Regions from separate parts of the Homo sapiens genome. Here region 2 is linked to region 1. A link means that fine-mapping ties the variant in region 1 to the expression of a gene that starts in the linked region. Tissue or cell type: whole blood. Region 1 holds a variant in brackets; the other region holds the start of a gene. All regions are shown on one strand. Distances are from middle to middle.

Region 1 (8,065 bases):
CTAGACAGTTGTGCTGAGTGATCTTCACACCCTTCCGATTTAACACATCCAGCTGAACTGATAGCCCTTCTCTATTCTAGTCTACAGATCCTCTATTCTATAGTGTTCTTTCTCTTACCCCTTGACATTGATTTATTCAGTTAATACGTATCACTTTTCACCTGTTATTGTTTCTGCCTATTAAATATCTCTCCAAATTGTCTTCTGTCATAATTGTATCCTAATTGGACTTCCTGTCTTCATTTTTCAGTCCCTTACACTGTGACCTCTGGGATCTTTCTAAAAATGAAGGTTGAATGTCTCTCTCCAGTTTTATTAACCATGCAGTGGTTCCCCACAGCTTCAGCATCAAACTCCTTAGCTTGGCATGCAGGATGCTTTGATTGCCAACCCCTCACACCATATGCTCTCCATAGTAAACTAGGAGTCGATCAGCTTTACAGTGTTCTCTCCCCTTCTCCACAAAAAAGTATTCTCTGCACTTGAAATGCCCTTCCTTCCGACTTGATCCTCCAAGGGTATGGTTAAGTCTGATCCCTCCTCTGGAATGTGTTCCATGACACCAGCATGTCTTCCTTCTGCCACCAGCCACCACACACAACATCTGAATTGATAGACTTCTTCTTCTCCTTATTCCTGTGTTGTCCTGGGCATGAATTCACCTTAGTATGATATCATTGCACTTGTTTGTCATGTCGGCCCACCAAAAGGATTGAGTTCTTTAAAGACACAGACTCTTTTCATTTCTGCAACCCCCACATGGTAGATAACAAAAGTTTGGATGAGTAAGTATGTATTTGCTTCAACCATGTTCTTCTTCCTTCAGTCTTTCATTCTGGTTATGCTTTGGTCCCATTTGTTACATGTAGGTAGAATTCTGTCCTAAACCTTATCTTTGCCCAAGCATTTTAAAACATGAGATTTTAGAAAATCCAGGTGAGGCTGGGTATGGTAGCTCACACCTATACTCCCAACACTTAGGGAGGCCAAGGTGGGCAGATCACTTGAGGCCAGGAGTTTGAGACCAGCCTGGCCCGCATGGCAAAACCTCATCTCTACAAAAAAATAAAAAATTAGCCAGGCATGGTGGGACACGCCTGCTGTACTCCCAGCTATGAGGTAGGAGGATCACTTGAGCTCAGGAGGGCAAGGCTTCAGTGAGCTGAGATCATGCCACTGCACTCCAGCCGGGGCAACAAAGGGAGACCCTGTGTCTCAAAAAAAAAAAAAAAAAAAAAAAATCCAGACAAGCAAATTGGCCTCTCATCAGGTGCTTCTTCCTTCAGTAGCTGCCTGGAATCTTTGTGGTTTGAAAAGGCCTTTTTAGGTGGAGAGATGTTCATGTCATAATGGCAGGCTAGGTAAACCCCCACCCTTCCCAGAAGCCTTATGCTTATGCTGCTGAAGTATTTATGCTACTGAAGTACTAGATACCACCAAGACTATAGCTGAAAATACAACCAGCTAACCCTAAGACAGATTGCAGTAACCCACCAAGCCACCTAAACTGACAGGATAGATGAATTTCTATGTCCAGAGAGAACACATGACTTACTAAGACATTAGTAACTAGGAAGACTACCAGTTTCAAGTCCCCTTGCTAATACCTGCATTCTGTCTCAGTACTTGAAAGTCTGTAGACTTTATTTGCATTGAGGGACCATCTTGTCTTGGGCTTTGTTGTAACTGGTGGAATGAGTATTTTTATGTAGCTGTAATGAGGTTGTAAACTGAAGGCTTTGTTTCCCCCTTAAATCTATTCTGAGTGTTAAGCCCATGGATGCATACCACAAGACTTCAGTGGAAATCTGACCTGGCCTTCCTCAGCAGTTTTCCAGTATCCCTTGAGGATAGCTTAGTTTAATAAATATTTACCACTCTCCTCCACATTTTGGTAGACTTGGCTGACTAGCATCAGCTTCTTCACCTCTAATTTGGCCATCATCCCCGGAACTTCATAGATGATCCAAACTCTGACTTTGAAAGTTGCATCCATTTTCTGTACTTCTAAACCAGGGTGGCTAAACATTACCCAAGAAAATTATGCTAATAAATGCATGTCATATACTTACACACTCACATTTATCTGTAGCTTATATTCCCATATAAGTGCACAATTATATAGATCGCCATCTACCAAGAGTTTCCCACTTGTACGATGTATTAGAATTCCACGTGTCTAAAAGAAATTTTTCATTCCTTCCTTGAAAACTGATTTTCTTCCTTTTTAATTTATCTCAATTCATGGTATACCCTTTTATCTCATCACTTAAACCAAAAGCGGAGTCATCCATAAACATATCACCATTTTACTCTGTCACTTAAAGTCCTGTTAATTTCTTCACAACAGATATTAGGTTTGAGCTTTGCCATTCATTCTCGTTGCCACCATCTGACCTTTCTTTCTTGGGTCATTGCTCTGGACTCCTCAGTCTCCCTGTGGCCAGTATCGCCCCCTTGTGATTCATTCTCTAAACTCTCCTCTGATTTTGTCCCTCCCCTGCTTCCTACCTTTTCAGGGTTCCTCTGCCTATAGGGCCACATCTCTAACTTTATCTCACGTTCCTGGCCGTCCTCAGCTTCCAACAGAATTGAACTTAAAATCTGCTCCTCTGTCCAGAATGCCCTTCTTCCCCTCAGTTTTCCTAATATATGAGTGGGAGCTTACCTGTCTTTCAGGCCTTCACTTGCAGGGCTTTTCTCTCTCAGAAGTGGTCATGCTACCTTATTCATCTAAGCAACTGAAGGTTTTTCTTCTATGTTCGCATATTGGATGCATATCTATCCTATATACCACATCCTTGAGATGTAAGGTATTCATATTTATCTGAGTGTCCTCAGTGCCTGGTACAAATCAAGCACTCAGGAAATGCTTATTAAATGGAAGAACTAAATTGCTAAGGAATTAAACATTTTTGTGTTACCTCTGACAGAAAGTAGGAACAGGAAATTCTTTTTTTAATTGAAAACATTTTAATATTTACTTTTGAATATAAATAAGCATTCTAAGAATAACTTGGAGTAAAATTTTTCTTTATGAGCTAAGTTTAAATCCACTTGAATTACAAAACGTCAGTCATTGGTTCAGTATACTCAGTACTGAAGAGTAAAATGCTGCAATATTTATGATTTTTAAAACTATTAAGTTTACATAGAAAACCAATTATTAATCTGCATTGCGCAGCTGTTGCTATGTTATGCTGCAGCAACAAACCCTAAAATAAACAACTATTTTTTTTTAAGTTCTGGGATACATGTGCTGAACATACAGGTTTGTTCCATAGGTATACATGTGCCATAGTGGTTTGCTGCACCTATCAACCTGTCATCTAGGTTTTAAGCCCCACATGCATTAGGTATTTGTCCTAATGCTCTCCCTCCCCTTTTCCCCAACCTCCCTACAGGTCCCAGTGTGTGATGTTCCCCTCCCTGTGTCCATGTGTTCTTATTGTTCAACTCCCACTTATGAGTGAGAATATGCAGTGTTTGGTTTTCTAGGAACAGGAAATTCTTAAATGCCATATTCCCCAAACCTTTCTAATCAAATAGTTCTAGTTTCTTCCCCTCTTCAGTTTCCTGCTAAAATTAAGATGTGTTTAGGCTCCCTACTTTCCTTTAATTAGCATTGATACTGGTGATACTAATTTTTGTAAAGGGTAGGAAAGAGACAAAAGATGTAAATAATACAAATTTTATATACTTCCAAAAATAATCCTAGAAATCCAATATAATTTCTAGCTAAAAGGGTTTTAAAGGATGTAGGAAGTATATGCTTTTTATGTTCATTTTTAACTGCAACATAAAACAAATGAAAATTCCTTTGACTTGTATTAAAGATAGCTGATCCTAATAAAGGAAAGATATATGTAGTGAGAAGACTATTAGATTCTAATCCTGCGTCTGCTGTAATTATGTGTGGTCTTGGGCAAGTCGTTTCTCCTTTTGCAGCTCAGTCATATCTACAAAATGAGAAAATTATAGATTGTAGATTTAGCAATGGCCCTTTTCCTTCTAGTGAAACACAGAGAAACTGTATGAGAGAAGTAACACCACAACAGCTCTACTTTGGAACTGGTGATGCTATAGAAAGAGGCGGGGAAGAGGCAGAGGTTCTCCCTCCACAGGGCTGTCCCTACTCCATCTCATTCCAAAAGGTGGCCCCTGCAGAATTGCCTTGAAATACAGTTTAAAAGCCACTATTGGATGATATACGAGTTTTTCTTCACTGACCCGAAATCAGATAGAATCACAGAATTTGAAGAAGTTTCTTAAACTCCCTAATATGAAATTCTAGTCTGCTGTGCTTTTCACAGGACTCTCCTATCTTTGCCCAATATCTAAGTCTTATTAAATATATTTTATTTTGGGGGGCTCATTGTGCACATTATATGTTGCCAATTCACTTTTTTAAGGTTTAGCTCTATTTAATCAAGATATATGAATTGACTATAGAGCATTGATCACCATTTCTCTCCTT[G/A]ACTTTGGAGTGTCTGCAGGGCACATACACATTTAGCACCAGTACTCCCTTCTCCTGTTGTTCCCCATGTGTCTTTGCATCCAGACGTTCATGCCAACAGCTGACACACCTATTGGGTGCTTACTACATGTCAAGCACGGTTTTCAGTGCTTTACATTAACCTTCCTAGCAATCCTATGAAGTGGGCTACATTTATCTTTCCTTTATTAGGATCATTTATCTTTAATACAAGTCAAAGGAATTTTCATTTGTTTTGTATGTTGCAGTTATAATTGAACATTAAAAAAGCACATATTTCCCACGTTATCATCCTCATTTTACAGAGAGGCTAAGCACTGGTTCCAGAGCAACACAGCTGGTAAGAAGTGGTACTGGGGTTTGATCCTGGAGAGCCTGGTTCTAGAGCCCTCAGTAATTCTGTTCATTTTAAAGGTCTAACTTCATCCCACAAATACAGATTTTCTTGAAAGCAAAATAAAGTTAACATTAATTTTCTTATTTGTTTACATACTTAGAATTTCTTTTAAGAAATAGTGAAAACCTTTGTAAATCAGTATAGTGACTGTCCCATAGTAAATACTTAGTATATATTGATTATTATTAACTTAGGCAAATGGATAACTGTAATGTTCATAGCATTGACTTTTAGCAGTTGAGAAGAAAAGCCACATTTTAGCTACCTCATATTTCTCAGTTCTAAGAGAAAACTAAAAGTCGCTTGTTTACAAGATACCCTGCTCTGTAGCATCTGTTCAAGATATTTAAACTGTCCAAAATACTGGTCTTACCTAATTTTTATCATGCCACCAGGTGGCAGCATGTTATGTAAGGAAGTAATTTAAATATTCTATTGAAGATCATTTATTTTCAATATTTTGCCTTAAAAACTGCCCAACCATAATAAAAAATAAAATAGTATCTCATGTTTCCCTTTGCCTGCATTCTCTCCAGTCTATTTTAAAGACCCTGTTAGCACAATATCCGTGAGACCTGCCTTAATCCAGCCCTGCATTCTTCTATCGGTTAGTGCAGAAAGTTTTTTTCTTCCATCTTTATGGAGATTTGAGCCATTGGGCTTAGATTCTGCCAACTAAATGATTTTATTCCTACCTAAATAGTTCCTATTGTTCAGCAACAATAGTCCTCCTCATCTTTGTGTCTTCCATGGTACCTACAGAAGTTCTGAATATGTGGCAACGATTTTTTTCTTAATAGAGACAGGGGTCTTACTACATTGCCCAGGCTGGTCTCAAACTCCTGACCTCAAGCAGTCTTCCTGCCTACGCCTCTTTCAGAGTGCTGGGATTACAGGTGCGAGCCTGGCCAGTGACAATAGTTTTAACAGGTGCCCTTGGGTAAATGTCAGTGATATGTAAGATCCACATTAGCGTGTGTATTTACTGAATGTTTATTTGAATTAGAACATATTTATAGTCTTTTGTGGTTACGGTTGTTTCAACTGTGCAATCGAAGTCCCTGAAATTTTGCCTTAAGTTTAGGTATTATCAGTATCATTCAGATTAACTGCTGCCAAACACTGAAAGATTAGTGTTTGAGGTGGAAAGCAAGAGAATGAATGGCTAAGGAAGAAAAGGAAGGTAAAGGACTGAATGTGGCAGTTAAAGTCTGGGGGAAAGGAAAGGCTAGTGGTAAAATGAGAGAGGCAGGCTTCTTTTACTGCAACAGAGCACCGGCCACATGGGGAAGCAGGAGGACCACCAAATTCAGTTGGCTGCAGAGAAATCTGTTTATACTTCATAATCGTGGATCTGCCTAGACATTGCTTGTTTCATGGTGCAAACAGTGAAATCATTGAAACAAATGAAATCATTTGACATCAGTTTGTTAACAAATATTTTTTCCTATTCTAAAACCTATTAGTTTTGCCTACTGCTTGTCCCTTAATGAAGTCTTAAAAGAGCTTGCCCCTAAAGAGATGTACATAAGCAAAAAGAAACCAGCAATTTCATGTAAGCCCACCTTACCCTGTAGGTATTTCCTTGCTAAGGGTAATTGAGTTTAACAAAGGCGGTTTAAGTACCTATGCTATTTTAGGTATTGTGCTAGAGATTCAAAACTACAATATGTTTAACATCTATAGATAAGGTATTTTTAAGAGAATAGCTTAACCATTCAAATTAAACTAATTCTGTGAAGAACATTAGTACTGCCTTGAGATATTTACCAACCAATACTTAAAATGTATTTTTGTACATTATATATATATGGAATGCAGTGGTCTAAAGATGGATTAGAAACATCTATACCTTAAAAAGTTTATATATGGGATTGATATTTAATGAATAGAGTGAAATGATCAATTTTTTAAAATCCCAGCCAATGTGTTATATACATACATATTTCTCATCTTTTTGGAAATGTTTTGCATCTTAAGTGGAGGAGATTTTATCTGTGACACCCAAGGCTCTTACCTTAGAACTTTTATTTGACCTCTCATAAGCCTTACTAGTATTTGGTTAATGTTCATTATATTTAGGAACTCAGCAATTTCAAAGTCCATGGCCACATATTTTATTGTTTGTGTGTGTGTGCAAAGCCTAGTGTTATTGCAAATAGCCACATACTTTTAAAACAAGTATATTAATGTCTACATTTGTCATGCTGGGTTTCAAACGCAAAGGACTCATTAAAATTAGTCATTAATCACTTAGTAATATATATTAAATATTAATGTTTGTCATGAAGTATGTAAAACAACCCGTTTGTATTGTATCCTCTATAATATGCTCAGGGGGTAGAAAATACTTGATTTTATTGTCTGTAATGTGTAATCAGAGATTGAACGACCAAGTAATGTAGCATTATCCAAAGATTATTTGTTATATTTCAGTTGTAATGGAGTTAATTGCATGCCTTTCAGATAAAAAAATACTGTATGTACATCCTTAATTCATCTGGTACAACTATGTTTAAAAGTGCTTAATAAAGTATTCAGTACTATTTAGGTAATAAAATTAGTAGTGACTTACTTAATTTTATGTAGCATCACTTTCTTAAGCCTGTTTTTAAAGTGATTTATTACCAGACGGGCAAAAAGGCAATTTTTATGCAAATTGACACATTTAATAATAACTTTTGTAGTATAAAAGTGCTTGTTTGTATGAAGTTATAACTCACTTATGGGGCCTTGTAGTTCTATGTAACATTCTAGTGAAATGTGCACATGTGGATGCTCTTGGAAGCACTTCCAGCCCTGTGAATTTATGTATCTGTTGACTTCAATATTAGGTAGCTTGATTTCTAAAGCCATCACAGTAATTGACATGTTATTGGAAATAAAGTTAAGTTTTTCCTTATTTATAGGGATAACCTCAATTTTGAAGAATGTGAATCAATTCATACTTGGCTGAAAGCCAGTTCCCTCTTCAGTTTAGCTCTAGCACATACATGAAAAGCGCACTCGCGTCCTAAGTGCCTTGTGAATCTGCAGTGATTAATTCTTCTCATTATTTTGCTGCAAATTCTCATGACCCTCTGTGATGATTCGATCAGCCACTTAGAGTTTATGCATATTCATATCTCTGTGCTCCTGCCGCAGACGTTCAGATCTCCTTCACTGACTGGTGT
Region 2 (8,065 bases), 96 kb before region 1:
TTCAGAAGGAGTGGCTAAGGAACCATGGAAACCAAGGCAAAAACCTCAAGATTACAGTATTCCCAACCACCTTCTCCCATTCCACTCCACCCTATCCCTCTTCCCAAAGCCTGAGAGTAATTAAAACCAAAGAAAATATAAACATGAAAGTTTAGTTGGGAGAAGCAAATGCAAACTTCTAATATAGTATTGTACTCAAAAATGTCATGGAGAACTTGATTAGGAGACACTGAAGAATGTAGTGCTACAATCTTGAAATTTCACAGTTATGACCTTCAGACCATATATGATGTAAGGCTGAGAGACAGAGTTACCACAACACATCCTAAGAGACTGAAAATAGCCGAAAATCAAACTGAATGGAAAATTCCAGGAAGTATACTATATTTAATGGAAGAGAGGTTTATTTCTGTTATTTTGTCTGGGGGACTTTTCTTGAAAAATATGTTTGGATTTTTATGGGCTAAAGAAAATGTTTTAAATGAGGTTTATGTGATTTTTATTTATACCCTGTATTTTTTCGAAGATTTAAGAGATTATAGGTTTATAGAAAATATAACAAAATATTATGAATCATACATAGGAAAAAAGGTAGAGACATAAAATAGAGCCAGGAACAAACTTAATTTTAAACCATGAATTTATATAGTGATTAGGCCTTTAGTTCCTCAAGTTAATTTCTTTTTTTTCTTTTTAATTTTCTGTAGAGACAGGATCTCACCATGTAACCCATGCTGATCTTCTTGAACTCCAAGGCTCAAGGGATCCTCCAGACTTTGCCTCCCAAAGTGTTGGAATTACATGCATGAGCCACCGCACTCAGCCCCTCAAGTAATTTCCAAAAATTATGCAGTGCAAAGAGTTTTATGTATTAGGTATACATTTTTCATAATTTACACAGTATTTTCACATACATTATCTCATTTGATCCTAAATGGACTTTGTTAAGCAGTTATTATCCACATATTCCAAATAAGGAAACTGAAGCCCAGAGAAGAACTTGAAAATCCTGTTCTTCAAGGTGGGAGAATTGCTTGAGGCCAGTAGTTCAAGACCAGCCTGAGTAACAGAGGGAGTCTCCATCTCTCCAAATAATAATAATAATAATAAATGATATAGGCGTGGTGGCATGTGCCTGTGATCCCAGCTACTCAGGAGGCTGAGGCAGGACAATCACCTGAGCCCAGGAAGTCAAGACAGCAGTAAGCCATGACTGGGTCACTGTACTCCAGCCTAGATGACAGAGCAAGACCTCCTCTCAATCAATCAATCAATCAATCAGAACAATATGCATTTGACATCTATGGCCCCTGCATTTTCACGAGAGGATTACTACCTTCTTTACAGATGGCTTTAGATTTGGAGGCTGGCTAAGCATAAAATTAAAAGACGTCATGCTTGGAATAGCCCTTTTAAGAAACACTTAACTCCTTTACTTAATAGACAAGTGCACTGAACCACTCATAATTTTTTAAATTATTTTTATTTTAATAATTATTTTATTTATTAAGACACAAGGTCTCAATCTATAGCCCAAGCTGGAGTGCAGTCGCACCATCCTAGCTCACTGCTGCCTCAAACTGCTTGGCTCAAGCTATCCTCCCTCTTCAGCCTCCCAAGTAGCTGGGACCGCAGGCACAAGCCATCGCAACCTGTGCTCTGAAGCTTTAAGAGGCCAAACGATTCCTCACATTCATCCGATCAGTTACAGGTAGAGCCAAGACCAGAAGCCAGGTATCCTATTTTCCTTATAACACATTGCCTCTATAGCTTTATATCCATTTCTATGATTTTTGTTACATACCCAGTTCTGACCATTTCCTGTCACAATTTCCTTTGTCTACTAAGTAAAGTTCTAAATGCATGGTGACATAACATACAAGGCCCTACATAACCTGGCACAAGAGACCTCTCCAGGTACTCTCCTCCTCTAACAGTGTAGGAATACTCCTGACTCCTAGGATGCCAGGCATTTGTATAACATCCTAATAGAGTTGTGCTGGTGAAGGAAGGCCACATCCCTCTATCTTGTGAGAGTGAAGACTTGAGTTTCTCCATCACCAAGGAAGACTTGGGTGAAGGCACTCAAGTGGGAGGGACAAAATGACATCTGAAAACTGGAGGCCTTGGGCAGGGACCTCCCCTTCCTCAAACTAAAGGTGAATGAACCAAATTTTGCGATTCCAGGTAGCTTTTCATGTCAAATTTTCATGTCAAATTCTTCCGTGCCATCTCTGACCCTTTAGTAAAATCCCCTCCAAATATTCCAGAAAAACCTTGTGAGTTCATATTTGGCAAGGCCATCCAAAGCATGTTAGCAACCCAGCATGATGGTGTCAGTACTAATTACATAATGAGAGGCCCCAAAGAGAAGAGTATTAGGCAACAGGAACGAGGGCCACTAAATCCCAATCGCTTTTCCCCAGCAATGATTCTCCTTCAATATGAGGTTATGGGTTATGAGGATATGAGTTAGTCAATTAGCTTCCTTATGCAACTTCAAATTCCCTGAACAGATCCAGGAATTTTGCACATTCTGTTCCTTGTCCATAAACTTTGGTTCCCCTCCCCAAACTGTTGTTCTTTCGACAAACTCTATACATAATTCATATTCCTGGCTCAGAAATCATAATCTCTAAGTAACCTTTCCTGACACCCTATTCTCCACCTCCTCTTCCATAACCTGTGGTCTTTTTGAACAGAGTGGTGACATTTTGGGCTGGATGACTGAAAAAGCAAAGTAGAAAAACAGAACATAGAACATACAGGGCCTCCAGTTGCTGTGCCTGGCGGTACATGAAACATAGTATTCAATAACTATTCTTTGAATGCACAGTCATTTTGTTTTTTCCTTTAACAGTATTTCCTAATAGGTAACTCATGAACACTGCAAAAAATGTCAAACTGCACAAAAAAATTCAGGGAAAAGTACATTTTCCCCCCAATCCCATTCCCTCCTTTCTCTTAATACCAGTTAGCTTTCCTTTCAGATTGATTATGCATATATGGGTATGTAAATGTTTTCCCACTATTTGTTACACATAAAAATTATATACAATTCATATATTACATATGGTGCATGTTATATACACACACATAAACAGATCATCTCGGTTTTGCTTAACCTAAGTCAGGCTTTTTTTTTTTTTTTTTTTTTAGAGCAGCCCTCAGAACCAGGACAGGTTCAGAGACTTTATTTATTTTTTATTTACTATTATTATTTTGAGACGGAGTCCCGCTCTGTCGCCCAGTCTGGAGTGCCGTGGTTCAATCTCGGCTCACTACAACCTCCACCTCCCAGGTTCAAGTGATTCTCCTGCCTTAGACTCCGAGTAGCTGGGATTACAGGCGAGCACCACCACGCCCGGCTAATGTATTTTTAGTAGAGACGCGGTTTCGCCATGTTGGCCAGGCTGGTCTCGAACTCCTGACCTCAGGTGAGAGCAACGTAGTACTCCACTGTGCGTGCATACCATGATTTACTTTGCAGTCCCAGATTTACGGTTTCCAATTTATAAATACTGCCATTTTCACCTTCAAGCCCCGATGCCAAACACAGAAATACCAGGCCACCCCCACCCCCTCGCCGTGTGCCTCCCACATTTTCACACACATTTTCAGGAGCCCAGGGCGCAGCCTCACACCGAACGCCGCCTCTGCCGTCCCCTCACTTGCCCCGTGCCCCCACCGCAGGGCTGAAGGCGACGGAACCGAGCCTTTGTACCCCCACCAGCCCCGTTCCCTGGCGTCTCCCGGCCGCCGGGCTCGCCCGCTCAAACGTGGCGGAACAACCGGAGCCGGGCCCCGCCCTGCTGGAAGACAGGGCGGACCGGGCAAGGCAGGCGCGGGGCGGGGCGGGGCGGGGCTCCGGCTGGCGGGGCGCGGCCAGCGTGCAGGGCTGGGCCAGCGTGCGGGGCTCCTCCCCTTTCCTCCGGCGGCGCCGGCGGCCGCAGAACTTCCGGGTCGGCGCGGAGGCGGGGCGGAGGCGCCGCGGCGGCTGTTATTGTTCGGCTGGGCTCGGTCGGGCGCTGTCTCCCTCGGCTCTGCGGGTGTCAGTTCGTCCGGCTTCCTCACAGCCCCTCACTCCCGGCGGCTGACAGCAGCAGCGGCGGCGGCGGGCGGCGCCTGGCGTTTCGAGGCTGAGCGGCACCGGGGTTGGGGCGCGGAGGAGGAGCAGCAGCGGGAGGAGGAGCCGTGTGCCCTGGCACTGAGCGGCCGCGGCCATGGCGTACGCCTATCTCTTCAAGTACATCATAATCGGCGACACAGGTGAGGGCCCCGGGCGCGGCCGGGCGGGTGTCGGCGGCCTCCGGACCCGGGCTGAGGGGCAAACGGCGTCTGGCGGTGGCGGGGACGCGGACTCCACCCGGCGCCTCCCTCCTGGCCGCGCCGCTCCATTTCCGCAGTGCTGGAGCTGGTGACGTGGGCACTGCGAGCGGCCGCGGCCTGGCCAGGCCCGGTCTGCGGCCCCCGACCCGGCCAGTCTTGCAGCTGAGGGCCGTGGCAGCCGTTTGCGACGCCCGATTCAGGAAGTGTGTGACAGGAGGGGAGGCCTAGCGCAGGGCCGCCGGGGCCCGACTCACATGACTGCACCCCACCCCCAGGGCCCCTTGCGTTAGGTCTCTTCGCGGCCCCAGGAAAAAGAAGGAGGGAAACCTAGGGGAGCAGAAGGTGTTGGGGCCCGGGTCTTGGTTCCTGACCAGTCCAACCTTCCTCCACCAGCACGCATCTATCAAGGCCTGGGCAAGGCGCTTTTTGGCGTGGGACAGGCAGCCGAGAAAGAGAAAAGGAAACCTTTAAAATATGTATTTTATATATATACATATATATAAAATATGCTTTTTTAACACCTTCAACTCTCACGTCAGAATAAGTCACATCTCATTACTTGACGGCTGGAGAATCCCTTTCGGGGTTAGGAAAGCATGAACGAGTTCTGTGGACTTTTGCCACGTGTGAACTGGGGTTATATAGTAATGTAAAGTCGTTCAGTGCTCTGGGTGTGTACTTAGGTATGTGTATGTTGAGGACGCTGATGTTTTAGATATGTCAAGTCCGGTGTCACAACTGCTAATTTTCAGGTGAGCTCATGTCCATGAGCTGAAAGAAATTCAGTTATTCTCACTTAAAATGACGTCCTAGTATATTTCACAGAAAAGTAAACAGACTCTTCGTAGATATTTTTAATACCTGTGATTTGGCATTACTTTGAATCTAATAATAAACATAAAGATTGTTTAGATGTTGCAACTATTAATATACCAGAGTCTGATTTCAGTGGTTACTCTTGCACAACTTTGGACCCTTTGCACAACTTCGGTCATGTAAGCAGCAGTTTGTAGTTGAACTAATGATGTGGCAGGTTCTATAAGTAACTAAAGAAGCATGTTGGCCGGACGCGGTGGCTCACACCTGTAATCCCAGCACTTTCGGAGGCCGAGGTGGGGGATCACCTGAGATCAGGAGTTCGAGACCTGCTTGGCCAACGTGGTGAAACCCCGTCTCTACTAAAAGTACAAAAGTTAGCCGGGCGTCGTGGCAGGCGCCTGTAATCCCAGCCACTTGGGAGGCTGAGGCGGGAGGATCACTTGAGCCCGGAAGGTGGAGTTTGCAAAAAAAAAAAAAAAAAAAAAAAAAAAGCATATTTATTGCTGCCTGAAAGAAAAAATTTCTGCTAGATACATGAGTTTTCAGCAAGGTTTTCTGATGCGTGCGTGCGTGTGTGTGTGTGTGGAAATTGGATTTGTAAACTTTAAAAGAAAAATGCTGTGGTGTATTTGGAAGAAGGAGAATTCTAAAGTCTTCTGGCAAAATTTCATTTAGGCTGTAAAAACAAGATTGGAGAGGAATGCCACATTAACTGTAATATGAGTGGGTTTGAGAAATAGAAGCTTGTGACTGTGGCATTTGGCTATCTCATTAGTGGTGAAAATTCAAATCAGACTTTGCTGGTTGCCTTTTTTCAGTTTTTTATTTGAGGCTGTACTGTGGATAAATAAAGTATTGTGCATGGAGTAGTGGGGCTACAAATCCTAACAAGTTAATGCTCTGTTCTCTTGGAATTTGCTCTTATCCAAAAGCAGTCCCCACGCAATTCAAAGGGAAGACACTTCTTTCTTGTCATTGCTGCTGATACGACCTAGTTCAGGAACAGAATTCTTGACACTGTTATAGTCTGCAGCAGTACTTCTCCCTACTCCAGTTCAGCCAGTGTAGTTTACTGTCAGTTTAGTCATCCTGAAGCATGAATGTCAAAAGGCTACTCCTGTTTGCTCACAATTTTTAGTTTGACCTTCAGTGAACTCTATATTTTAGCCCCTATCTACATTTCTCGCCTTCTTTCCCGCTATTCCCCACCTTGCTTCTGCCATTGAGTCCCAGTGACTGATTTTGGTGTTTTTTTCCTGGGCACTGCTAGTCTCTATTCTTAGAGTGCTTTCCGGCACAATCTCTCCCTGTGGAAGATCCATCAGTCCTTCAAAGTCTTATCTGAGTTTTCCGTAATGCCTTCACAGTCAACATATATTAAGCTCTTATTGTGTGAAGATTTTCACAGTATCCTGGCTGAAAGTGACTACTCCGTTTCTGAATTTATGTTTCTCACTTTGTGTCATTCTTCTGATATTGATCCCAGACTTTTCTGTTGTATAGATACTTGTATAGGCACCTCTATTATGTAGGTACCTATTATATACTTCTTGAAGTCAGAAAAGATGTTTTGTATGGCTCTGTATTTCTTTCAGGAAGAGCGTAGTAGAAGGTAGGCCCTGTATATTTAACTAATAAGAGAGGAGCCAAACAGGCTACTATATTCCTGTTTGTATATATTAATAACTTAACAGAAGTGGTGTCGTTGTTGTTGTTGTTGTTGCCCAGTTCTGCCACCTTCTTGCTTACTAATTTGGGCAAAATCCTTTACCATATTTCTTTAATGCAGAGTGTACCCATAGTTGTAAGATACACTCAGTGTGGCCCTCCCCTAGAAAAGATGACTTTAAAATCAGTAATGTGAGATCCACTTTGATTTTTTAAAAAGTCAGGGTCAAAAACATGCATCTTAGAATGAAGGAAATCACCTAATTTTTCTGTTTCCCTGTTTCCGTAACCTATAACCTTCTCTCAGTATGTGGGATAAAATGAGGATAAATGTGAAAGTACTTTGATTTCTCAAAGGAAAGGAACAATGCACATTTTTCCTTTTCAGAATTCCCTCTTTAATAGAAGAGGTTTTAAAAACTTTTACATGATCATGATGATACTATTGAGCTGTTTTCTTACTGTAAGACTAAATGCAGTTAAAATGTAGCTTTAAATTTTTTCCTTGTTCCTGTCTTGTTTCTGAATCATTTAGTAAAATGTGTCATTTAAATCTAGATGTAAAGTGGAAAGTGGTTTTTAATAAGCAGTTAATTATCAAGCATGGAGAGAAAAAATACGAATCTATAGTAATTTTTCTTCTGAAATTCTAGCATCTGCCAACCATTTTAACCTTATCACTAACCCTCCCTGCTGCTCAACGCTCAGCAAGGTAAACAAAGGCACAGGTTTGGTTGTGTTCTTATTTCTGCTAATATCTGAAGCACTCCTTCTTGTTCTTCCCTATCAAAAAAAGTTATGTCAAAAATTTTTGTCACCTGGCCAACTCCTTTTTATCCATTCTTTTGAGAGTTTAACAAATCCTACCACTCCCTGTTGCATTTTATGCTGGTCCCCTCCTCTCTTCCCTCATTCTGTTTCCCTTCTCTTCAGTCCCAGTCCCACTTACATTTTATTTTTTATTTTTCACTCTTATGTATATACCCACCACTTCCATTTTATTTTATTTTACTTATATTATTTATCTATCTATTGAGACATGATCTCTGTTGCCCAGGCAGGAGTGCAGTGGCACTATCACGGCTCACTCACTACAGCTTCAGTCTCCTGGGCCTAAGCAATCCTCCCACCTAAGTCTTCCAAGTAGCTGGGAACACAGGCACATGCCACCATGCCTGGCTAATTTTTAAATTTTTGTAGAGATGGGCTCTCACTGTGTTGCTCAGGCTGGTCTCAAACTCCTGGGCTT

The links. PIP is the estimated chance that this variant, and not a neighbour inherited with it, causes the effect.
Region 2: RAB2A starts here. The variant in region 1 is fine-mapped to the expression of RAB2A in whole blood (TOPMed, PIP above 0.99).

What each region holds. Positions count from the first base shown.
Region 1 is chr8:60,608,744-60,616,808 of GRCh38, forward strand. All of the region lies in intron 6 of RAB2A (RAB2A, member RAS oncogene family), which reads left to right. Among named protein-coding and RNA genes, the nearest start is that of CHD7, 66 kb to the right of the region's middle. The variant G/A (reference allele first, on the strand shown) is at 4,478.
Region 2 is chr8:60,512,985-60,521,049 of GRCh38, forward strand. RAB2A (RAB2A, member RAS oncogene family) reads left to right here and starts at 4,003. Exons shown (of 8, transcript NM_002865.3): 1 at 4,003-4,269. The coding sequence starts at 4,224. It overlaps LOC124901949 (a long non-coding RNA gene), which reads left to right. Exons shown (of 3, transcript XR_007060922.1): 3 at 708-3,814. RefSeq lists enhancers at 3,151-4,011, 5,247-5,436 and a silencer at 3,587-4,456.